4 linked regions of the Homo sapiens genome follow. The protein of the gene in region 1 interacts with the protein of each later gene in a biochemical or structural test. Each region holds a gene or a part of one and is shown in the gene's direction. Other genes may lie near its edges.

Region 1 (7,398 bases):
TATAAAGCGAGAAATGGCTAGGATGTTTTGAGAGCATAAGAGGAGACATCCAGTTTGCATTCGGTCACGGAAGGTTTCCTGGAAGAGGTAATGCTTGAGCTGAAACTTAAAGAGTAAACATAAGCTAGCCTGATAAAACATAAGAGTAGAAGGACATTCAAGCCAAAAGGGACAGCATGAGCAAAGGCATAGAATCTAGAAACGGCACAGGCACCAGCATGATGTGTTTGAAGAAACAAAGTAGCTCAGAGTTGTTAGAGCATCAAATGTGAGGCAGGGAATGGTAGACAAAGCTAGGAGACATATTTGAGCACTTGAATTTTCTCTTGGAGGCTTTGGGATACCGTTAAAAGTTATTAAGCTGAGGAATTACATGGCCGATTTGGGTTTAGATCAGTCACATTGGCAATAAGGGGAAAATACAATTGACAGGGACAAGACTGAAGGTAAGAGACAAGTTAGGCTGTCATTAATCTCAGCGAAACAAAAGGCAATCTAAACTAGGCAGTTGTGAGGATAGAGAGGAGAGGTAGATTTGTAGAATATTCAGAAGGTAAAATTAGCATAACATGGATTAGTGTAGTAAGGGATAGGGAGGGTCAAAGATGATTCCCAGGTTTTTGCCTTGGGTGAATGCTCATACTGCCACCTGAAATTGATAATTCAGGAGGATAATTCAGGAAGTGTATCCAAAGGAATATAAAAAATTCCAGATGGAAATGCTGAGTTTGAAGTACCTGTGAAATGAAGGTCAAAACGTCAACATACAGTTGGATACTAAAGGCTGAAGTTCTGAGGAAAGATCTGGACCAAAGATGAAAATCTGGGAGTCATTAGCCTGTGGGTGTTAGTTGAAACCAGGACTATATGAGGCTAGAAGGGAGTTACCCAGGGAAGGAGTCTATCATTAAATGAGTTGTGGGCTGAGGGCAGACACTATCAGAGAAGTGAGAGGAGAATCCAGATGGTATCTTCAGGTCTTTTGTGCTTGCTAAATTGAGTGGAGCCCATTCTATTCTCTGTTCTGGGCAGACCCCCACTTACCAGTATAGCCTTGTCTTCAGCTTTGCTAATGTTAGAAAAATTAGGTAAACATATTAAGAAAAAGTAGGCTGGGCGTGGTGGCTCACGCCTCTAATCCCAGCACTTTGGGAGGCCAAGGTGGGCGGATCACGAGGTCAGGAGATCGAGACCATCCTGGCTAATATGGTGAAACCCCATCTCTACTAAAAAAAAAAAAAATACAAAAAATTAGCCGGGCATGGTGGCGGGCACCTGTAGTTCCAGCTACTTGAGAGGCTGAGGCAGGAGAATGGCGTGAACCCAGGCAATGGAGCTTGCAGTGAGCCGAGATTGCGCCACTGCACTCCAGTCTGGGTGACAGAGCGAGACTGTCTCAAAAAAAAAAAAAAAAAAAAACCGGCTGGGTGTAGTGGCTCACGCCTGTAATCCTAGCACTTTGGGAGGCCAAGGCAGGTTGATCACCTGGGGTCAGGAGTTCGAGACCAGCCTGGCCAACATGGCAAAACCCCGTCTCTACTAAAAATACAAAAATTATCCGGGCATGGTGGTGCACGCCTGTAATCCCAGCTACTCAGGAGACTGAGGAAGGAGAATCGCTTGAACCTGGGAGGTGGAAGTTGCAGTGAACCCAGATTGCGCCACTGCACTCCAGCCTGTGCGACGGGAGCGAGATTCCATCTCAATAAAAATAAAAAATAAAAAAAATAACCACATACTTTTCTTTTGAGGAGAGGGGGACTGCCCTTGGCCCCAACTACTCTCTCAAAGACCTCATTCTCTGCTTTCAGTATGTGGAGAACAACAAGAATGCTGACAACGATTGGTTCCGACTGGAGTCCAACAAGGAAGGAACTCGGTAGGTAGACCCTCTTGGGAGGTGTGGGGTGGGAGTCTTATATGAGTTAGGCAATTTGGTATCCTAGCGCCCACTACCAAAGCTGCCCTGTCACATGTTAGCTGTCTCCACTCCCACAGCGCCAGAGTTCCCCAGTTCCCATCCTATGAGTCTCCCAGGCTGGTGGCCTAAGCCAAGATATCATTTGAGTACTGGAAGAATAGGCAAATTGGACTGAGGTTTGGTCTTTGTTACAGGTGGTTTGGAAAATGCTGGTATATCCATGACCTCCTGAAATATGAGTTTGACATCGAGTTTGACGTGAGTGTGATAGAGTGGGAAATATGAAGGTTAGTAGAAGGGGAGGGATTAGATGATGGGTAACAAGCTATCCTTTCTTGAAGGGACCAAAGAAAACTTTAAAAATGGGAGAGAAAAGCTGAGGTTTGAGGCAAGCATAAGTTATATTTACTCATCTCCACATCCAGAATCCTGGTATGGATGTGCTCCTTGGGGAGTTTTACTTAACATTTCAGTTTAACCAAGAAATATGTATGTCTGATTATATTAGTTCCTTTCTATCCTGATTCTGTTTTATTAAGGTTTTATAATTTCTCCAGATTCCTATCACATATCCTACTACTGCCCCAGAAATTGCAGTTCCTGAGCTGGATGGAAAGACAGCAAAGATGTACAGGTAGGACTGAATAGGAGATGGCAAAGAGTCAAAGAAAGCCTTAAGGAAGAACTTCGTGGCGGGAGGGAGAGCATCAGGAAGAATAGCTAATGGATGCTTGGCTTGATGTCTGGGTGATGGGATGATCTATGTGTAAATCACCATGGCACGTTTACCTATGTAACAAACCTATACATCCTGCATGTGTACCTCTGAACTTAAAAGATGTAAGGAAAAAAAAAAAAAGGAAGAACTTTGGAGGCAGAGATTTTCCCAGGGTCTGCTGGCCTAGTGGGGTGCCAGGCCCTCCTTTGCTGAGCCTAAGCAAAGTACTTAGCTGAACTTGTTCTCAATTCTGATCACTAGTAGTCTTCCTATGCCCCCAAGAGGCTGCTGTGCTTTATGGTAAACTTTGCATGTCAACACCTTCTTCATGTCCCTCTCATAGGGGTGGCAAAATATGCCTGACGGATCATTTCAAACCTTTGTGGGCCAGGAATGTGCCCAAATTTGGACTAGCTCATCTCATGGCTCTGGGGGTAAGTTTTGTGTATTTGGCATAAAAGGAGAAAGAGGGACTTAGGCCCTGAGCAGTACAAGAAAAGCAGCTAAGAATAAAAGGAATAACAGTGATGTCCCTTAAGCATGTTCCCCCAGAATCTGTCTCCAGGAAGGAGCTTCTAATGGAACAAGAAGCATTGACTGGTAGTAATCTCACAGGATTTTCCTTGTATTGCAGCTGGGTCCATGGCTGGCAGTGGAAATCCCTGATCTGATTCAGAAGGGCGTCATCCAACACAAAGAGAAATGCAACCAATGAAGAATCAAGCCACTGAGGCAGGGCAGAGGGACCTTTGATAGGCTACGATACTATTTTCCTGTGCATCACACTTAACTCATCTAACTGCTTCCCCGGACACCCTCCACCTCTAGTTGTTACTAAGTAGCTGCAGTAGGCATTGCTGGGGAAGAAACAAACACACACCAAACAGTACTGCTACTTAGTTTCTAAGGCTGCACAGGGAAGGGAAAGACTGGGCTTTGGACAATCTAGAGGTAATTTATATCCGCCCCCAGGTGGAGCAACATGCGATTCTGGAGGCACGGGGGTAACTGAAAGTGAGTACATATAGTCTTTCTGGTTTCTGGAGATAACCCATCAATAAAAGCTGCTTCCTCTGGTAGCCTGTGGTTCTCATTGGGAGCTGTTAACAGAGGGCAAGTGGGCTGAAACCTGAGGCACATGAACAGCTACGCCGGGTTGGGTTGGGAAAGAGTCGGAAATAGGGGATGCTCTGGTCAGGAGTGGGAATGAAATGTTGACTGTTCCCCCTGCTGCTCAGATCTACCTTTGTCCTTTAGTGGTGAGCCATGCTTTGCCCTACCGTGTTAGCCTGCAAGAAGTGGTTTTGCCGGACCAGCACTTCCCGCCCTCCAGGGATCTTCCCAGCCCTCTGTGAAGTGCTAGATGCTTCTCCACTGGTCTGCGGGCTGGACCCAGGCCTGCAGTTTGCCATACTTGCGCCCCTGCTGTTTGGGAAGGATCTGTGCTGTAAGCCTCGCGGCCATACTACGACTGTCAGATCTCCATCCCTATGGGCTATAGGATGGGGCGACGGCACCCTATACCTCAGGGACTTGCTTTGGAGTCATGGATTAAAGACCTCTCTGGGCAGCGTTGAGAACCAGCGACCCTAAACTTGGCTGCGTTTCCATGGTGTCGATCGCGGAGCCGTGGGGGCGGGCTCACGCAAGCGCCAAGGGACCGGTGGGAGGAGTTCGGGTGTGGATGCGCAGGCGCTTTGAGAGACGGTGAAGCCGGTGGCCGGTGGCCGGGCGGGACCAACAAAGATGGCGGCGGCCCCTGCGGCGGGAGCGATCTGGGCAACGGCTGCGGCTAAAGCTGCAGCCGGGCCCACGGGGGGGCTGCACGGGGGTAGTAGGGGGTGGCCCTGAACTGGGGCCTGGCCCTGGCTGGCCTCTCCCGCCGCCTCACTGGGGGACAGGTACGGGCCGGGGCGTTATGGCATGGCGGGGTGTGGGGGGGCGCAGAGGGAAGACTGCTCCAGACCCGAGAGGACACTCTCCACAAAGGCGCGTGGGGCCCGGCGGGGCCTGGGAGAACTGGGCTGGAGGGACAGCATCCCTGGACCGCGGGGAATACGCCGCCGGATTCCGTAGCCAATCAGCGGTCTCGGCCTTTCTGCCCTCGAGGGGGGCGGACCCGGCTAAAGCCCTGCTGTGGTGGGAGAAGTGCAGAGATTAAGGGTCAAGGAGTTGTTCGTCCTCCATCCCCGACTACTGCTTTCTGAACCTCGACACCATGTCGGAGGTCGGAGGTGGGGGAGGGAATGGATCGTAAGTCACCCATATAGTCTGCTTCATTTGCAGCCCAGAGAGGCAGGGATTCGAGGATGGAGGGCTGTCTTTTGGGCTGTTATTCTTGCATCTACACTACCATTTGGCTAGGGTCTTAAGTGACCCGAGGCACATCCTACTTTACTAGCCGGGTATGGGGTCCCATGTTACGTTAGAGCCGAGATAGGAGTTATCACTGGCTTTTCAGTAAAGATGTGTTCTGCAGGGAGGGGTCGGGAGTATAGAAAGGGTCAAAGCCATGGGCTGCTTATCTTTCATTCATTTGTTTACCCAATAGATACTAAGTATTTACTTTGTACCAAACACGATGCCAGGTACTGGGGATACGATGGCTGATTCGATAGATCTGGTTCCTGCCCTCAGTGCGTATACTGCTCCCCACTTTCGTTGATGTGGTAGTGGTGATGACTGAGCCAACCACCTAATGTGGAAATGAGAGGACAGCAAGATTGTGGGTATGGAATGGGGCAAAGCAATAAGGGAAAATTAGTGTGGCAGGGTTCAGTACAGCAGCCTGGGTTCCCATTTCCCCCCATATTCAAATGCTGACACTCTCTTCTCCTCCCAGGTCCAGCCTGTGGTGTCCACAATGCCCCAGGCCTCTGAGCACCGCCTGGGCCGTACCCGAGAGCCACCTGTTAATATCCAGCCCCGAGTGGGATCCAAGCTACCATTTGCCCCCAGGGCCCGCAGCAAGGAGCGCAGAAACCCAGCCTCTGGGCCAAACCCCATGTTACGACCTCTGCCTCCCCGGCCAGGTCTGCCTGATGAACGGCTCAAGAAACTGGAGCTGGGACGGGGACGGACCTCAGGCCCTCGTCCCAGAGGCCCCCTTCGAGCAGATCATGGGGTTCCCCTGCCTGGCTCACCACCCCCAACAGTGGCTTTGCCTCTCCCATCTCGGACCAACTTAGCCCGTTCCAAGTCTGTGAGCAGTGGGGACTTGCGTCCAATGGGGATTGCCTTGGGAGGGCACCGTGGCACCGGAGAGCTTGGGGCTGCACTGAGCCGCTTGGCCCTCCGGCCTGAGCCACCCACTTTGAGACGTAGCACTTCTCTCCGCCGCCTAGGGGGCTTTCCTGGACCCCCTACCCTGTTCAGCATACGGACAGAGCCCCCTGCTTCCCATGGCTCCTTCCACATGATATCCGCCCGGTCCTCTGAGCCTTTCTACTCTGATGACAAGATGGTGAGGACTTGCCACACACATGGCCTTCATGCCCATGTTCCTCTGTGCTTTCCTGCCATCCTCTGCCTTTTCTGTCCCCCATTTCCCTGAAGTTCCTTTCTCAGCCCTTCATTACAGCAGTTTGGACATGCCTCTCCCTTGCTTAAATACCCTTGAGCCTCCTAGACCCTTTTTTGGGTTGTTGGTGACTCTTCAGCATGGTGTGCCATTTCGGTCCCCAGGGGATTACCCCAACTATTTAGAATTCTTCTTTGGGTCCCCAGGCCCTTCCTTTCCCTTGCTTGCACCTTCTCTACTGGGACTCTGCCTAGGCCTAATTAATCTCTGGAGCTAAAGAGAGGCAGGCACAGAACATCTTAGCAAACGTGGTTGCACATTTTCTGAGCTAAGTAAGCTAGGCTGATTGCAATTGGAGCCAGCAGGAGAAGGGCAAGAAGGGGCCACGGGGGCAGGAGGGGGTTTTGGGGGCAGAAAGGTGGGAGTGGTGAGCAGCTGGGCAACCATGCCGGTGCTGGGGGAGTTGCCCCAGGAGCTGCAACGTCAGCTAGCTGAGCAGAGGAGTAAGTGGGCAACAGGTGGGACAGCCATGGCTGAGTCCGTGGTACATTCAGCTGTGATGGGCTTACTGCTCATGACCAGTGAGGTAGGGAGACTAGAATACCTAGTGAGGGGAATAGGGTAGAGTTTGGGGATGAAACATGCATGGGATGGGGGAGGCAGTGGGCAGCATGCTGTTGAAAGGTTAAAGTGCCAGGTAGGATATATAGGAACTTGCCGATTGTACTCTGACCTTCCAGGCTCATCACACACTCCTTCTGGGCTCTGGTCATGTTGGCCTTCGAAACCTGGGAAACACGGTGAGAGCTATTCTCCTATCTTTCCTCTCTAAAAGGAATGTGAAATGGTGCTGGGGGTGGGGAAAACCCACGAGCTTGGGGAAGGCATGTGGAAGGAGAGCTCTGAAGCTCTTCTAAGGCTTCCTGGGCAGTGGTCTGGAGAGATAACAGCAGTGTCCCTACTGCTCCCCAGTGCTTCCTGAATGCTGTGCTGCAGTGTCTGAGCAGCACTCGACCTCTTCGGGACTTCTGTCTGAGAAGGGACTTCCGGCAAGAGGTGCCTGGAGGAGGCCGAGCCCAAGAGCTCACTGAAGGTGGGGCAACAACTCCTGCTCCCTCTGTTCAAGTCCCTTTTTCCCCAACCACTTGCAGGTCCATCTGCCACTGGTGGTGGCCCCCAACCCTTAAATCTGGCAGTTGTATCTACTTTTCCCAGTGCCTACTTTCCTAAAGGTTATTT
Region 2 (6,653 bases), on another chromosome or scaffold:
GCCCTAAAACAGCAGGGCTGGTCCACATATTCTCTGAAGACCCTTTCAAGGCTGATTCTTGTTTTCTTTGTTTTTTGTTTGTTTGTTTTTAGATGGAGTCTCCCTCTGTTGCCCAGGCTAGAGTGCAGTGGCTCAATCTCAGCTCACGGCAACCTCCACCTCCCAGGTTCAAGCTATTCTCCTGCCTCAGCCTTCCAAGTAGCTGGGACTACAGGCGCCTGCCACCACGCCCGGCTAATTTTTGTATTTTCAGTAGATGCGGGGTTTCGCCCTGTTCACCAGGCTGGCGTCAAACTCCTGACCTCAGGTCATCAACCCACCTTGGCCTCCTGAAGAGCTGGGATTACAGGCATGAGCCACCATGCCTGGTCTCAAGGCAGATTCTAAAAGACAGCCCTGACTTATTTTTCTAGAGACAAGCCAAACAGCATTTGTGGATTTATTTATTTATTTACGCATAAGCTTTTTTGTATCTTCAAATAGAAAAAGACATTTTACTCCTCCATCTTCTGAGGTATGGCCAAGCACTCTCCTTTGAGTGGGAGTGTGCTGTTGGGAGTGTCTCCTCATTTTTCTTGCACAAACCATTCCCATAAGGCAGGCATTTATTTTTAAGCAAACATTTATTGCATGCCAGATGGTGTTCATACATTATCTCATTTAACTCCCTCAACAGCCATGTGACTCAGGCATTCATATTAGTAATAATAGTTCATGTTTGCCTAGCACTCACAACTTGCCAAGCACTGGGCTGACAGCTTTACATGCGCCATCTCATCTAGTCTTCACAACCACCCTCAAAAGAACCATTATTTCATGGCTTGCACCTGTAATTTCCAGCACTTTGGGAGGCCGAGGTGGAAGGAACACTTGAACCCATGAGTTCAAGACCTGCCTGGGCAACAGAGCAAGAGCCCATCTCCACAAAAAGAAAACAAACAAACAAACAAAAAAACATTATTTCCCCTACATACCAGATGAGAAAGTTGAGGCACAGACAGGTTGAGATCCTAAAGCCAGTGAGTAGTAGAGAGGAGATTTCAGACATCCATGGGTTAACTCCAGAGTTGCTGCTCTTTTTGTAGGTTTTTTTTTTTTTTTAATTTATTTATTTTTGAGACAGAGTCTCACTCTGTCATCCGGGCTGCAGTGCAGTGACACAATCTTGGCTCACTGCAACATCTGCCTCCTGGGTTCAAGTGATTCTCGTGCTGCAGCCTCCTGAGTAGCTGGGATTACAGGCACATGCCGCCGTGCCCAGTTAATTTTGCTATTTTTAGTAGAGACAGGGTTTTGCCATGTTGCCCAGGCTGGTGGTCTCAAACTCCTGGCCTCAAGCAGTCCTCCCGCCTCAGCCTCCCAAAGTGCTGGGATTACAGGTGTGAGCCACCACTCCTGGCCCAAGTTGCTGCTCTTAACTGTGAAGTTCTCCTGCCTCCCACAGTTTATTATTATCCCCGTTTCCCCGGTAGGGAAACTGAGGCCTCAGAAATGAAGCCCCTTGCTCAGGATCAGCAACTGTGATGCAACAGAGGCTCAGAGCCCTGCCGCTGGGTAATGGCAGCAGCTTCCCCAGCTGGTGGTGCAGGTTGGCAGATCTATTGAGTCCCAGGGGCCCTGGCTGGAGGAGGTGTGCAGCCTCGCCTTCAGAGCCTGTTTTCCTTAACCAAGTGCCTCCCACTGCCCCCTGCCTGGGGGGGTCTGCGGAACCATCCTCAGCTACATTGTGCAGGACCTGATGGAGACTGACCTGTACAAGTTGCTGAAAAGCCAGCAGCTGAGCAATGACCATATCTGCTACTTCCTCTACCAGATCCTGCGGGGCCTCAAGTACATCCACTCCGCCAACGTGCTCCACCGAGATCTAAAGCCCTCCAACCTGCTCATCAACACCACCTGCGACCTTAAGGTCAGAGGGTTGGGCACCTGTCCCCTCCTCCCCCAGGGTCTGGGGCTTCCAGTGACCAGTAGAAGAAGCCTTGGGCAGGAGAACATTGCAAGCAAAGGGAACAGTGGAGGCAAAGACAAGGGGGCGTGACTGCTTAGGCTGCAGAGGCCTTGAGCGCCGAGCTTAGCAGCTAGGTCTGATTCCAGATTTGTGATTTCGGCCTGGCCCGGATTGCCGATCCTGAGCATGACCACACCGGCTTCCTGACGGAGTATGTGGCTACGCGCTGGTACCGGGCCCCAGAGATCATGCTGAACTCCAAGGTAGGAGGGGCTGCCCACTCCTGAAAGGAACGGACCAGTTCCCAGGAAGCCCTGGAGCTACCTCTGAGCCAGACACTGACCCCCATGACACAGGAATTCTACCCTCTGGGCCTTGGGCTCTGCAAGGAAGCTGAGCATTGAGCCCTCCAGGCCTCTGCCTTCTGCCTGGTGTTGGATCTAACTTGGAGGTGGTGGCCTGGCGCAGACAACAGGACCCTGTTGAGGCTGGCCCAGGAGCTCACCACTTCCTCCTCTCCCCCAGGGCTATACCAAGTCCATCGACATCTGGTCTGTGGGCTGCATTCTGGCTGAGATGCTCTCTAACCGGCCCATCTTCCCTGGCAAGCACTACCTGGATCAGCTCAACCACATTCTGGGTGAGGGAGGCCCGGCTGGCTGAGTTGGGGATGATTAGCTTTTCCGAGGTGAGATTTCTCGAGAGTCCAAGTCAGGGATACCACCACGTGTGGGGTGCCTCCAGCATCTCATGGTATCTCAATGAGGTATAGATATTATCCCCATTGGATAGATGGGAAAAGCAAGGCTAAGTCCCACACCTGAGGAGGCACCAGACCTAGGATTTGAGCCTCGGTCTGCCTGAACCCAGCCCCCTTGCTCTGCACCACCATGCTAATGACTAGGAGGTGACTGAGGGATTGGCATGGGTTGCTGGGCTGGGGGGTCTTGTTCTTGCCTTGTTGCCTATTCTGTTCCCAGAAAGAAAGAGGTGATCATTTACCAAGTCACCTCCTTATCCACAGGCATCCTGGGCTCCCCATCCCAGGAGGACCTGAATTGTATCATCAACATGAAGGCCCGAAACTACCTACAGTCTCTGCCCTCCAAGACCAAGGTGGCTTGGGCCAAGCTTTTCCCCAAGTCAGACTCCAAAGGTTCGAGAGACATGAGGGTGGGTGTGGGATAAACCTTGGGTGTCGTGGAGGGTGTGTGAGCCCAGCAGCCGCTGGAGGAGACAGGCAAAGCAATGCTTCTCGGAGCTCCTCCAGTCTTCCCTGTGACCCCTGACTCCTGCCCTTCCATAGCCCTTGACCTGCTGGACCGGATGTTAACCTTTAACCCCAATAAACGGATCACAGTGGAGGAAGCGCTGGCTCACCCCTACCTGGAGCAGTACTATGACCCGACGGATGAGGTGGGCCAGTCCCCAGCAGCAGTGGGGCTGGGGGCAGGGGAGCAGGGGGGCACGTAGGCATCCCCCATGCCAGGCCTGAGCCTTGCTGTCTCTACCACCCCAGCCAGTGGCCGAGGAGCCCTTCACCTTCGCCATGGAGCTGGATGACCTACCTAAGGAGCGGCTGAAGGAGCTCATCTTCCAGGAGACAGCACGCTTCCAGCCCGGAGTGCTGGAGGCCCCCTAGCCCAGACAGACATCTCTGCACCCTGGGGCCTGGTGAGTGTCTCCATGGCCCACACATGGACACCCTGATACTAAATATCTATATCTGTATATCTATATCTATATCTATCTGTACATGCCTCCATACAGCAGCAAGCTTACCCCACACCCATGGTCAATGTGTCTGGTGACAACAGAAGTGCCCAGGGGGCTGGGTGTGGTGGCTCATGCCTGGAATCCCAGCACTTTGGGAGACTGAGACTGAGAGGAGTGGATCACCTGAGGGTCAGGAGTTTGAGACCAGCCTGGCCTGCATGGTGAAATCCCATCTATACTAAAAATACAAAAATTAGCCGGGCACAGTGGGTCACTCTGGTAATCCCAGCACTTTGGGAGGCTGAGGCAAGTGGATCACCTGAGGTCAGGAGTCCGAGACCAGCCTGCCTGGCCAACGTGGTGAAACCCTGTCTCTACTAAAAATACAAAAATTAGCCGGGCACGTAGGCATGCGCTTCTAGTCCCAGCTACTCAGGAGGCTGTGGTGGGAGGACTGCTTGAACCTGGGAGGCGGAGGTTGCACCACTGTACTCCAGCCTGGGCAACAGTGAGACTCTCTCAAAAAAAAAAAAAAAAGGGCTGGGCACAGTGGCTCATGCCTGTAATCCCAGCACTTTGGGAGGCCGAGGTGGGTGGATCACAAGGTCAAGAGTTGAGACCAGCCTGGCCAACATGGTGAAACCCGGTCTCTACTGTAAAGAATACAAAAATGAGCTGGGTGTGGTGGCACATGCCTATAATCCCAGCTACTCAGGAGGCTGAGGCAGGAGAATTGCTTGAACCCAGGAGGCAGAGGTTGCAGTGAGCCGAGATCGCACCACTGCACTCCAGCCTGGACTACAGAGCAAGACTCCATCTCAAAAAAAAAAAAAAAAATGCCCAAGGCTGCCCAGACTGGTGGCCCACCGAGTCCTCCAGCCCCAAATGTCTCTGCCTGTCAACACCTTGCATCCTCCAGCCCCACAAGCCATTCTAATCTCCTTCTAGGAACAGAACTGGCAAAGAGGCAAGAGGTCACTGAGGGCCTCTGTCACCCAGGTGAGGACCTGAGCCAAGCTTCAGCTCTGGGTGTGGCAGAAGCAGGTGGGGCCATGATTGCTTTGGGAGGGGCCCAGCAGCGCCCAGCCTGACCCAGATTGCCAGGCCTCCTCACACCTGCTGCCAGATCAGCAGTTCACATAGCTGTGGGGACCCCACTGGCCTGCCCCCACCCACGCTGCCTCCTTGCCTCCTCCGGTCTCTTCCTGTCTTCAGCCAGGTGTGGCCTGATAGAAAGAAGGCATGCGCACCTGGGCTCAAACTCCAGCTGTGCCACTTAGTAAGTGCTGTGTGATATTGGGCAAGGCACCTCACCTCTCGGCGCCTCAGTTTCCGGAGTCAATCTATTTATCTTTTTTTTTGGTTTTGTTTTTTTGAGACAGTGTCTCGCTCTGTCACCCAGGCTGGAATGCAGTGGTGCAATCATAGCTCACTGCAGCCTCAAAACTCCTGGGTGCAAGGGATCCTCCCAGCTAGCTGGACGAGCCATTGCAACCGGCTAATTTTTTTTTTTTTTTTTTGTGGAGCTGGGGTCTTGCTATGTTGCCCAGGCCAGTCTCAAACTCCTGGGCTCAAGCGATCCACCACCTCAGCTTCTCAAAGTGCTGGGATTATAGGCGTGAGCCACTGTGCCCGGCCGAGACAGTTCTAATAATGAAAGCATAAAGCCCTAAGCATTGTTCTAAGAGGTTTACATGTATTAATTCCTTTAATCTTACAGCAGTACCTCAAGCTAGGTACTATTATTATCTCCATTTACAGATAAGGAAACTGAGACCCAGCCTATCCAGCTGTGAGGGTGAAATGAGAGATGTTGAGGTCAGGGCTCCAGTGGGTCTGCCCGGGGGGTGCTAACGACTCCTCTTCTGCCTGCTTCTCTCTTTAGGACCTGCCTCCTGCCTGCCCCTCTCCCGCCAGACTGTTAGAAAATGGACACTGTGCCCAGCCCGGACCTTGGCAGCCCAGGCCGGGGTGGAGCATGGGCCTGGCCACCTCTCTCCTTTGCTGAGGCCTCCAGCTTCAGGCAGGCCAAGGCCTTCTCCTCCCCACCCGCCCTCCCCACGGGGCCTCGGGACCTCAGGTGGCCCCAGTTCAATCTCCCGCTGCTGCTGCTGCGCCCTTACCTTCCCCAGCGTCCCAGTCTCTGGCAGTTCTGGAATGGAAGGGTTCTGGCTGCCCCAACCTGCTGAAGGGCAGAGGTGGAGGGTGGGGGGCGCTGAGTAGGGACTCAGGGCCATGCCTGCCCCCCTCATCTCATTCAAACCCCACCCTAGTTTCCCTGAAGGAACATTCCTTAGTCTCAAGGGCTAGCATCCCTGAGGAGCCAGGCCGGGCCGAATCCCCTCCCTGTCAAAGCTGTCACTTCGCGTGCCCTCGCTGCTTCTGTGTGTGGTGAGCAGAAGTGGAGCTGGGGGGCGTGGAGAGCCCGGCGCCCCTGCCACCTCCCTGACCCGTCTAATATATAAATATAGAGATGTGTCTATGGCTGACCCTGGCTCTGTCTGTGTTCGCGACGCCCCCGCCCTGCCCCGTGCGGCTCTGAGGACAGACTTGACTTGGGCTTTCAGGGGCCTGGTGCCCTTCACTCCCAGCTGCCCAGGGCTGGGGACGGGGCTCTGGAGAGCTCCAGACTCCTAGAAAGAAGGGGGTCAGTTTTCCCCTTAGTCACTGTCCTGTCCTCTCGCTAATGGCTTCCTGTCTAACTGGCTGGGGGTGATTCGGGGTGACTCAGGAGCACCCTACACACCCCTGGATCCTCTGAAATGGCAAGGGGTAGGCATGTTGGATGCGCTGGCTACAAGTACCAGTGAGAGGGAGAGGTCCTGACAGTCCTGGGTGGTTTTTACTCCCCTCATGTAGCCCAGGACGGGGCTGCTGGGGGCTGGGAAGGGCCTGGGGATATGAGAGCCAGGGCTACTTGCCTCACCTCCTGACACTACCCCAGCTTCAGCCGAACCCTGCAGCCTGGCTCCAAGCCAGCCCAGCGGCA
Region 3 (3,708 bases), about 46 Mb from region 1:
AACAATTATCAAATTGAGCTTTATGCATCATTACTCAGAAAGCTTGCCTTCCTTTCTTTGCTACTTCAGGACACAGAGTTGACATTTGCTTACTACAGCTTTAGATCTAGAAGTTTATTCGTGCAACAAATATTTATTGAGTAATTTATACTGTGCCAGGCATGTTTTGATATGTTTCTGTCATATGTTTTGATATGTTCCAACATAAGTTTCTGTCACTTTATATTCAGTATATATTTTCTACAGTGGGTAAATTTAACAAATGGAAAGGAATAGAACACTGATATTTTACAGAATTAAACCCCTTCATTGTAAGGGCTTTGTTTACATATTAAGTGTCAAGTATTTATTCAGGGGATCTTATTTCATTGTATTTTATCTGTTATCTAGGTTGTCCATTTACCGGTTGGACACTGATACTCTGTCAAATTCCTTTCAAAAATGACTCTTTAGTCTGCTGAAATTTAGCACTAGTACTTTAGTGTTCTGATCCTGGAAAATTCAAGGTGAAGCTTTATTTGTGGACCATCTGATTTAATTATTGAGGATTAAAAACCTAAACCTTTGCTCATTCTAAACTCAAGCTTTTAAGCCTCACAGAATTTACAGGGGTTTGCTTTTTGTTTGTTTGTTTTTTCATTTTTTACTGTGCTTATTAAACTCTTGGAATTAGTTATTAAAGGGAGTAAATTCTCATCTTGGGAATTTTGAAAATCTATGGACTTACAACTTTCAGGAGGATTAAATGTCTTAAGTTTTGTACTAGAGCAGAATGAAATCTTTCCTATTCATTGAGTTTTTGCCTGCCATAGAGGAATTTTTTTAAAAATTAAAATGACAGTTTATATTAGTGGCAAAGTGAATAAAGACCTCACTTTCCCACCCCACCCTTCTTCCTTTCTCTTACTTTTCTTTGGATTAAAGGTCAGGTGTAGTACTATGAAGATTCACTCCTGAATAAAGTGATTTCAGAAGCTAAAATTTAACATACCTGGAAATTTTGTGATGTGTTAGCCAAGTGAAGACATTAGTGTGTTCCATCTTTTGCTAATGGTTCATGGTTGATTTCTTCATTGTTTCCCATGAAATTAGCATAGTCAAGTGGTACCCTTGACGCTTGACTGCTGGTCAGTTTGACCCTGTTTTTAACAACTAATGTAGTCATGCCGCTTGATTATTCCATGAAGTCCCAGCAAAATAATAATGAGGAATTAACTAACATTATGTTATCTATCTAATTTGTCTGTGTCCCTAAATGCCCATGCCTAACTTGCTTCTCTAGTTTATTCCTTCTGTGGAGGGATTAAAACGTGGGTGTTGCAAGTTGCCCTAAGCTAAACATAGTTTTCTTACATCTTTTTGGGAAAAAAAATGGAATGGGAAGTATGCAAGATTAAGCAAGAGTGATTTTTTTTTTTTTTTGACAAATCAGGTGGCCTTCCTAAACATACTAAGAATTATGTTCTTTCATGTGTGGAGACACATTTGTTTGCAGCACTTTAAAAAATATATATGGAATAAAAGTTTACATGTTGGCCCTCTAGGGATCTAATTAAGGACATTAAAGTACAATTCTTGAGCTACTAACCATCAGCTCTTCTTAATCAAAGATTGCCATCAGTGTAGAGTGTATCTATTGGCACAACATTCTGGTGTTTTGATAACAGTAGAACTCAATTTCAGTAACTATTAGGAGCATGGTCTGTGCCCTAGCATTAAAAATGTTACTTATTATTATGTGAATATCTTGTATTATTATACAATGCAGTATTCAAATTTGTCCTTGTAGTGCAGAGATGACTGATAATTTCTAAAAGATTCGATCCTTAAAACTTGTTTCCAAGCAGACTTATAAGGAAGCTGATTTTTGAGTCAGAGGCCTTAAACGTGTCATATACAAGTGGCATCATTTTAAGTCCAAAGTGAAACACTTGATTTGAATAAGCTAGTTTATAAACTAAAGCTGTTTTCTTATGTTACAGTATTTCAGCACATTTCATTCCACATAAAAAGAATATTAAGTGTCCCTGGTTGTGGGAGAGTGTTTATTTTTCTCAAAATTATCTAGCATTTTGCTTACAGTGCTTTGAATGTTTGACTTAAAATTATTATTGATGTTGAATTGTAGGGTGCTGATTTAGGTCTTGATTCATACACATTTAAAGGAGGTTGGTAACCCCCTCATGGTAGAGTGAAGGGAGAAAAGGGCCAAGAAGACAAAGTACCACTGATAAAGAAGAGATTGTCAAATAGATGCATTCCTAGTCATGAATTACCCTTTTCCAAACATTTTTAAAGCAATGCCTTTGTGTCAACTCAACCCTTCTTCCCCATTTCTTGTCATAGAATGTAGCATGGCCATAGGTGAAAAAGCTTATCATTAAAGTATGAAACCATGAATTATAAGCATTTTGCCATGATGCCCTTTTATACATATGTTTTTAAAAGTACTAACCAACATATAGGAGTTTAGGAATGGTGAAGATATAATTTGATTAAGTTGTAGGTAAACAGAAAGGATCATCTTAGGCTCAGAATTTCTAATATGATTACATGAGTCTACTTTATAAACTGGTATAGGCTATGTAATTAGCCCGTAAGTTACTTAAAGGACCAGGGGACCTAATTTTTGTCAGTTTTCCAGTCACATTGGTGCCATTCAGGACTCCAGCTGTTTACAGGAAATATGTACTTAGCAGAATAGTATTTTTCCTTGAAAAAAATTTGAATTCAGCCTAAATACAGAATGAATATGAATAGTTTGTGAAAAGGGTTAGAGAACAACAATATTCCTATAGTTTCTGTATTAATGCAGTAGAGACAGAGGTTCCTAACGCAAAAAGAAAACCACAAGTAAAGACCGTCAAATTAGAGCTTTAGAATATGACTTGAAAAAGTAGGGATGGGCAAAACAGCATAAGAAAATATTTTTTCTTAATGCAGATGGACAGTGTTTTCTTGTTTTAAAAATGTTTTGCCTATTTGCCAGCATTTTTTGAAGTAATACACTGCTGCTACCTGGAAGATGTCTAACTTCATTTTCTACAACTCTTATGTGATTTTGCCATTGTCATTAAGATGCATTGATTTTATTTATGAGGTGTATGACTTTAAATATCTAAATGCTGTATTAAGTGACTTGTTTCAAAGGAATAAATGAAGTGAAAACGTTGTTTGAGTATATTTTGGGATCAGGGCAGATATGGCCACTGAACGGCTATTTTACTCAATATACATATTATCAAAAGCTTACCGAATCTTTAACTAAGGTACCAAAATCTGCCAAATATCACCCTTTAGGCGGACTCAATGAATGAGACAGGAGAAACTAAGGTATTTCTCCTTAACGAAAGGTTGAAATTCCCATTCATTGACTAAATTTTTTTCTAAATCCAATCCTACAAGTTGTAATTCAATATTTGTTGCTGACAAGTTGTCAGTGTGGAAAGGCTTAATATTTATTTTCTAATAGACTGCAATCTTTGTGAACTTAGATCTGTTTGAAAACAGCAACATCACTATAGGAGGGTTTATTTCATCTTTGGCAATGTCAACATTTAAACATGTATTTGAAGCAACCCTGTGGCTATTACAATTGGCCAGAGTTCAGGTTCCCTAACTAAACTAAACTATTTAACCCATTCTTTCTCATTGAAAGCTTTAAAATTATGGACGTGGAAGTATAATAATATCTAATCAGTTTGTACA
Region 4 (6,363 bases), on another chromosome or scaffold:
GGAAGGAGGCTGAGGTGGGAGGATTGCTTACGGCCAGGAGTTCAAGGCTGCAGTGAGGTATGATCATGCCATAGCAATCCAGGCTGGGTGACAGAGTGAGACCCTGTCTCTTAAAAATAAATAAGTAAATACATACATACTGGACTTGTTTGCTAAATCTTAGCGATAGGGACTGTAAAACTTTTCTTTTTCTTGCTTTTTTTTGAGACGGAATTTTACTCTTGTTGCCCAGGCTGGAGTGCAATGGCATGATCTCGGCTCACTGCAACCTCTACCTCCTGGGTTCAACCAATTCTCCTGCCTCAGCCTCCCGAGTAGCTGCGATTATAGGCATGCACCACTACACTTGGCTAATTTTTGTATTTTTAGTAAAGACAGGGTTTCACCATGTTGGTCAGGCCGGTCTCGAACTCCTGACTTCAGGTGATCCACCTGTCTTGGCCTCCCAAAGTGCTGGGATTACAGGTATGAACCACTGCACCTGGCCAGGAAAACTTTTCTTACAAGATGGTAATTCGGTCGGGTGCAGTGGCTCATGTCTGTAATCCTAGCACGTTGTGAGGCTGAGATGGGAGGATCACTTGAGGCCAGGAGTTTGAGACCAGCCTGGTCAACATAGTGAGACCCCCATCTCTATTAAAAAAAAAAAAGATAGTAACTTAAGGAAATAAAATTAACAAAAGGACTGATTTCTTATGTACTTCTATGCTGACTTAGTGTAACCCAAAATTTAACATGCTATTTAATATGTCAGTGCAACTGCTTTTTAGTTTCTGTTTATTGTTCAGGATAATTTTTTCTCCTGATATTCTTGAAGTAAATTTTTAGCTTTAAACAAATTCTTCTGTCACAGAATGACCTTGGTTTTAAAAAAGGGAATTGACTATACTTGCAAAGTTCATTTTTTTTTTCTAAAAAAGAAAAAGGCAGTATTTACACATCTGAATCCTTAATTTGTACCAGTTCTTCAGCACTGTCTTACTTCCTGGCTGCAGGGCCATTTGTTGCCGTATGGTGTTGTAACTTTAGGTTGGTGCAAAAGTAACTGTGTTTTGCATTGACATGGCACCAGCCTAAGAGCTAGCTCTAACTGGCTGAATGTCTTTTCTGACTTTCAACATCACACCAGCTGTATTAGCAGAGATGACTAAGCATTGGGTAATTTCACTTCATGCTAACCACTATAAATTGGTTCAGTTGATGTGTGTGTGTGTGTGTGTGTGTGTGTGTGTGTGTAGACTCCTATATAATTTCTACAATCCTTGCTTTAAAACCTGCAAAATGTATTTTTTGTTTTGTCTTTTCCTTTTTGAGACAGGGTCTCCTTCTGTCACCCAGGCTGAAGTGTGATCATGGCTCACTGCAGCTTTGACCTCCTGGTCTCAAGCAATCCTCCTGCCTCAGCCTCCCAAGTAGCTGGGACTACAGGCATGCACCATCACGCTCAGCTAATTTTTAAATTTTTGTAGAGATGGAGTCTTGCTATGTTTCCCAGGCTGGTCTTGAACCCCTGGGCTCAAGTGATCCTCCCACCTCAGTCCCCCAAAGTGTTGGGATTATAGGTGTGAGCCACTGTGCCTGGCCAAAACCTGCAAACCATGTTAAATCTATGTTGTGTTCCTTTCGGAAGAGATGTCTAATATTAACTTGTGTTATATAAAATCTAAAACATAGGCTTTCAATATTGTTTTAACAGTATATAACAGAATTGGCAAATGCCCTGTCTTACTGTCATTCGAAGAGAGTTATTCATAGAGACATTAAGCCAGAGAACTTACTTCTTGGATCAGCTGGAGAGCTTAAAATTGCAGATTTTGGGTGGTCAGTACATGCTCCATCTTCCAGGTATGTAACTTTAGAGGTGGAAGTTGTTTGGTTTACCAAAGCCCTGGGAGCTAACCGTGAGCTAAATGTAAAATATTTCAGTGTAGATTTTGTGCTGTAAGAGGGGTAGGTGGCTAACCCAGAAGTACTTTGGAGTAATTTAGGCTTAATAATAAACTAGGGTTTGCAAGAAAGTGTTATTCTGTGGAGATTTGGGGCTATTAGCAGTGTTCTAGGCCTAGGGTTGAAGATGCTTAATGTCCTTAGAGGCTAATGAAGGGATGAATGAGTCAACAGATAGGACACGTATATGACAGAGGTGAAGTGCCCACATGTTGAGTGGGAGGAACTCTTCACCTCTGCTGCTTCCTGGATGAGGAGATGGGGAGATGGTTCAGAGGACAGCACTGACAAAGATCTAGAGCTCAGAGTGCAGGCCATATCAGGGAACTTGAAACACTAAATTAGTTTGGTGGTGCTTTGAGGGCAGTGGTGAGAGATTCTCTTCAGTCTGCCTCTGTCAATAGTAGGGATAGTCCTTTCTTATCCCCTGTCACAGCTGAAGCAGAGATGTCAGTCTCAAAACAATTCAAATCTTAGCTTTCCAAGTGAACTACAATATCTTTACTGTTTTAAATTTGAGTTTAAATAAGCTTTGAAACTTCACATGAAGTGGGGCATTTTAAAACATATATCTACCGATGAAGTTTTGTCAACTTTGGAGGAGGACTCAAATTATAGCCAAATGACTTAAAAATCAAGCTAGTTAAAAAAAAAGTATAGCCTAAAATAGAATATGAGGGAGAAAACCTTTGCTTTTGTTACAGAGCACTTCTAATTGTTCCAGCAATGCACTGAATCTGCTATTGCAGTCTTTTTTTTTTTTTTTTTTTTTAAACTGGTTGTCATTAGTGGGAGCTGTTATCTGGTGAGACAAACCAGAATAAAGACTTACAGGCTTCATGGAATCGCAGAGTTAAACTGTATCTTAACCGGTTGAATTGTGATAGAAAAGATGGCTTCTTGCTTTTTGAAAAGATTACTTACATAACCGATAGTCACTTCACTCCAAATCCCAGATGTTAATCATCATCATTTCCTGGTTATTGCCTCAGTTTGAGAACCCCCGATTCAGTCCGTCGGTGCTGATGGAGGGGTTAGATGACCAGAGTGGTAGCTTCTTAATCCTACGTCACAATTCAGTGGTGAGTGACTGTTTGTGTGCTCAGTGGGTGCCAGGCCTGGCTGAACACAGCACCAGGGCTGTGACCACGTAAGCCTCCATGGTGAAGAGCAGCTGATAACAAAGCAACACGAACCCACACAGACTGTTCTGGCTTGCTGTCTGCTGTTCCCAGCTTTTTTCCAACCTTCGTTAAAAAAACCTAAACCGATAAAAATGCGGAATTGGTAGTTGATGGCATACCTGTCTATACAGTGCCTACGTTCAGCAGTTTTTCCCATTTAGTCAGAAGGGCTGCATCTGCTTTTTTAGTGAACACTTGAAAATACGTTGCAAACATCATGATGCTTCAACCTTAAGCACTATAATAGAATGCATTTCCTAAATAAGGATATTCTCCTATATAACTAGAACCATGATCACTCCTAAGAAAATTAACAGCATTGTCAGTATCTAATATTTAGTCCACATTCAGATTTCTCCTATTGTCCATGACATCTTATAGCTGGTTTGTAAAATCAGAACTCAACCAAAGCCCATGCTTTGTATTGGACTGTCTATGTGGTTGGATTGTCTCTGTGGTTGGACTGTCTCTGTGGTTGGACTGTCTCTGTGGTTGGATTGTCTCTGTGGTCTAAAGCCAGACCAGTCTCCCACTTTAAAGAGGACTTTTCTGATTGTGTTGCCACTTAACTTGGACCTTTATTCCCCGTATTTGCTGAAAACTGGAATGTAGGTCTCAGGTCCTGAAGAGATTCAGGTTAAGAAAATTTTTTTTTTTTTTTGAGACAGAGTCTCGCTCTGTCACCCAGGCTGGAGTGCAGTGGTGCGATCTTGGCTCACTACAAGCTCGCCTCCCGGGTTCACGCCATTCTTCTGCCTCAGCCTCCTGAGTAGCTAGGACTACAGGCGCACACCACCACACCCGGCTAATTTTTTGTATTTTTAGTAGATACGGCGTTTCACCATGTTAGCCAGGATGGTCTCGATCTCCTGACCTCGTGATCCGCCTCCCTCGGCCTCCCAAAGTGCTGGCATTACAGGCATGAGCCACTGCACCCAGCCAGGTTAAATATTTTTGGCAAGAGTACTTCATAGGCCACCCTCAAAATTTCAGCATCACTCGTACCAAGTATCTATCACAAGGCAGCATGTGTCTACATCTCCACCCCAGTGCTGTTACAGTGGGACAGTTTCTAGTGTATTGTCATTGCGACCAGGCTTTTAAGATTCTTAGCATATCTGTAATATCCACATGCAGATGTAGAATCCAAATCGTATTTACAGAGAACTTTGCATGGCAGCTTTTATATGGTAGTGATACATTCAGTTTCTTACATTCTAGATTATTCAGGGAGGTTCTGGAGTTGGACAGATTTGGGGTTAAGCCTGATGGCTAGCTGTGTGACCTTACACACCTCGCTTCATCTGTTTCCTATGGGAATTTATAATAGTAGCTACTTCCTAGGGCACAGGATCTGGCCCAGGGGAAGACCTCAGTGTTAGTGGACTCTTTAATGATTGTTAGCAGCTGTTGTGATCATAAAACGAGAAGCACATCAACCTGAGCCTCCCTCCGTTTTCAGGAGGACCACTCTCTGTGGCACCCTGGACTACCTGCCCCCTGAAATGATTGAAGGTCGGATGCATGATGAGAAGGTGGATCTCTGGAGCCTTGGAGTTCTTTGCTATGAATTTTTAGTTGGGAAGCCTCCTTTTGAGGCAAACACATACCAAGAGACCTACAAAAGAATATCACGGGTAAGACGCAACTGAAAAGGACCCAGCACATCTGCTGGAATTCTTTCCTTATCAGCCTGAACTGCAGGCCAAGATCCGAACATCTATACTATTTGATCTCTCTAACCTGTGTTTTGTGATATTTTATCATTTGTTGTACTCCAGGTTGAATTCACATTCCCTGACTTTGTAACAGAGGGAGCCAGGGACCTCATTTCAAGACTGTTGAAGCATAATCCCAGCCAGAGGCCAATGCTCAGAGAAGTACTTGAACACCCCTGGATCACAGCAAATTCATCAAAACCATCAAATTGCCAAAACAAAGAATCAGCTAGCAAACAGTCTTAGGAATCGTGCAGGGGGAGAAATCCTTGAGCCAGGGCTGCCATATAACCTGACAGGAACATGCTACTGAAGTTTATTTTACCATTGACTGCTGCCCTCAATCTAGAACGCTACACAAGAAATATTTGTTTTACTCAGCAGGTGTGCCTTAACCTCCCTATTCAGAAAGCTCCACATCAATAAACATGACACTCTGAAGTGAAAGTAGCCACGAGAATTGTGCTACTTATACTGGTTCATAATCTGGAGGCAAGGTTCGACTGCAGCCGCCCCGTCAGCCTGTGCTAGGCATGGTGTCTTCACAGGAGGCAAATCCAGAGCCTGGCTGTGGGGAAAGTGACCACTCTGCCCTGACCCCGATCAGTTAAGGAGCTGTGCAATAACCTTCCTAGTACCTGAGTGAGTGTGTAACTTATTGGGTTGGCGAAGCCTGGTAAAGCTGTTGGAATGAGTATGTGATTCTTTTTAAGTATGAAAATAAAGATATATGTACAGACTTGTATTTTTTCTCTGGTGGCATTCCTTTAGGAATGCTGTGTGTCTGTCCGGCACCCCGGTAGGCCTGATTGGGTTTCTAGTCCTCCTTAACCACTTATCTCCCATATGAGAGTGTGAAAAATAGGAACACGTGCTCTACCTCCATTTAGGGATTTGCTTGGGATACAGAAGAGGCCATGTGTCTCAGAGCTGTTAAGGGCTTATTTTTTTAAAACATTGGAGTCATAGCATGTGTGTAAACTTTAAATATGCAAATAAATAAGTATCTATGTCTGTGTGGAGTGCTGTGTAATTCTTTCCACCATCTGTTCATTGTTGGCCTGGAAATGAGCAGGGGCTGAGAGGAGCAGGTCTCGCCCTCATCTAGTCCTGCCTCTTCTGGTCTCTCCTGTTGGGTGTACTCCTAATACTTCATTATATATATTGTTTATATATTTGTCATATCTTTGTCATCTGTCCATCGACTAAAGATACGGTGAAAGTGACTGTGATGAAGGAAAAGTAGAAGTGTTGAACTTAGAGCTAGTAGAGAAATCTGCTTGCATGGCCAATGCTCAGTGCAAGAAACTGGACAGCAGGTATGTCAGGATATGTCATAACAAAGTGGCCAATATAGAGAAACTTAAAAACATGACTCAGTAAAACTGCAGCTGCCAGCCCCCTTGGGACAAAGGGGCTTCTGGTTCTCATAGTCTTGAGCTGAACTGACTTTGACCTTCCCAAATAGTTCATGTGCCACCCTCCCAAGCTATAGTTATTATCACGTGACTGAC

What was found.
Region 2: of the proteins of USP21 (region 1) and MAPK3, one has a biochemical effect on the other in vitro, tested with the Homo sapiens proteins (one study listed by BioGRID).
Region 3: the proteins of USP21 (region 1) and YOD1 form a complex in vitro, tested with the Homo sapiens proteins (2 studies listed by BioGRID, with this or other methods).
Region 4: the proteins of USP21 (region 1) and AURKA form a complex in vitro, tested with the Homo sapiens proteins (2 studies listed by BioGRID, with this or other methods).

Annotation. Positions count from the first base shown.
Region 1 is NC_000001.11:161,155,139-161,162,536, forward strand, and holds the start of USP21 (ubiquitin carboxyl-terminal hydrolase 21), read left to right. Parts: upstream 1-4,361; 5' UTR 4,362-4,540; exon of another isoform or gene 4,541-4,562; coding exon of another isoform or gene 4,563-4,628; exon of another isoform or gene 4,629-5,227; 5' UTR 5,228-5,368; exon of another isoform or gene 5,369-5,481; coding exon of another isoform or gene 5,482-5,502; coding exon 5,503-6,102; intron 6,103-6,899; coding exon 6,900-6,959; intron 6,960-7,131; coding exon 7,132-7,252; intron 7,253-7,398. Other genes in the region: UFC1 (ubiquitin-fold modifier-conjugating enzyme 1), read left to right, coding at 1,812-1,879, 2,116-2,179, 2,479-2,555, 2,983-3,073, 3,274-3,354. UniProt on the Homo sapiens protein: Deubiquitinates histone H2A, a specific tag for epigenetic transcriptional repression, thereby acting as a coactivator.
Region 2 is NC_000016.10:30,113,605-30,120,257, reverse strand, and holds the end of MAPK3 (mitogen-activated protein kinase 3), read left to right. Parts: intron 1-1,719; coding exon 1,720-1,909; intron 1,910-2,094; coding exon 2,095-2,211; intron 2,212-2,473; coding exon 2,474-2,588; intron 2,589-2,972; coding exon 2,973-3,104; intron 3,105-3,254; coding exon 3,255-3,364; coding exon of another isoform or gene 3,365-3,421; intron 3,422-3,467; coding exon 3,468-3,590; 3' UTR 3,591-3,622; intron 3,623-4,612; exon of another isoform or gene 4,613-4,663; intron 4,664-5,549; 3' UTR 5,550-6,153; downstream 6,154-6,653.
Region 3 is NC_000001.11:207,043,312-207,047,019, reverse strand, and holds the end of YOD1 (ubiquitin thioesterase OTU1), read left to right. Parts: 3' UTR 1-3,171; downstream 3,172-3,708. UniProt on the Homo sapiens protein: Hydrolase that can remove conjugated ubiquitin from proteins and participates in endoplasmic reticulum-associated degradation (ERAD) for misfolded lumenal proteins.
Region 4 is NC_000020.11:56,368,890-56,375,252, reverse strand, and holds the end of AURKA (aurora kinase A), read left to right. Parts: intron 1-1,696; coding exon 1,697-1,845; intron 1,846-4,593; coding exon 4,594-4,768; intron 4,769-4,912; coding exon 4,913-5,095; 3' UTR 5,096-5,863; downstream 5,864-6,363. UniProt on the Homo sapiens protein: Mitotic serine/threonine kinase that contributes to the regulation of cell cycle progression.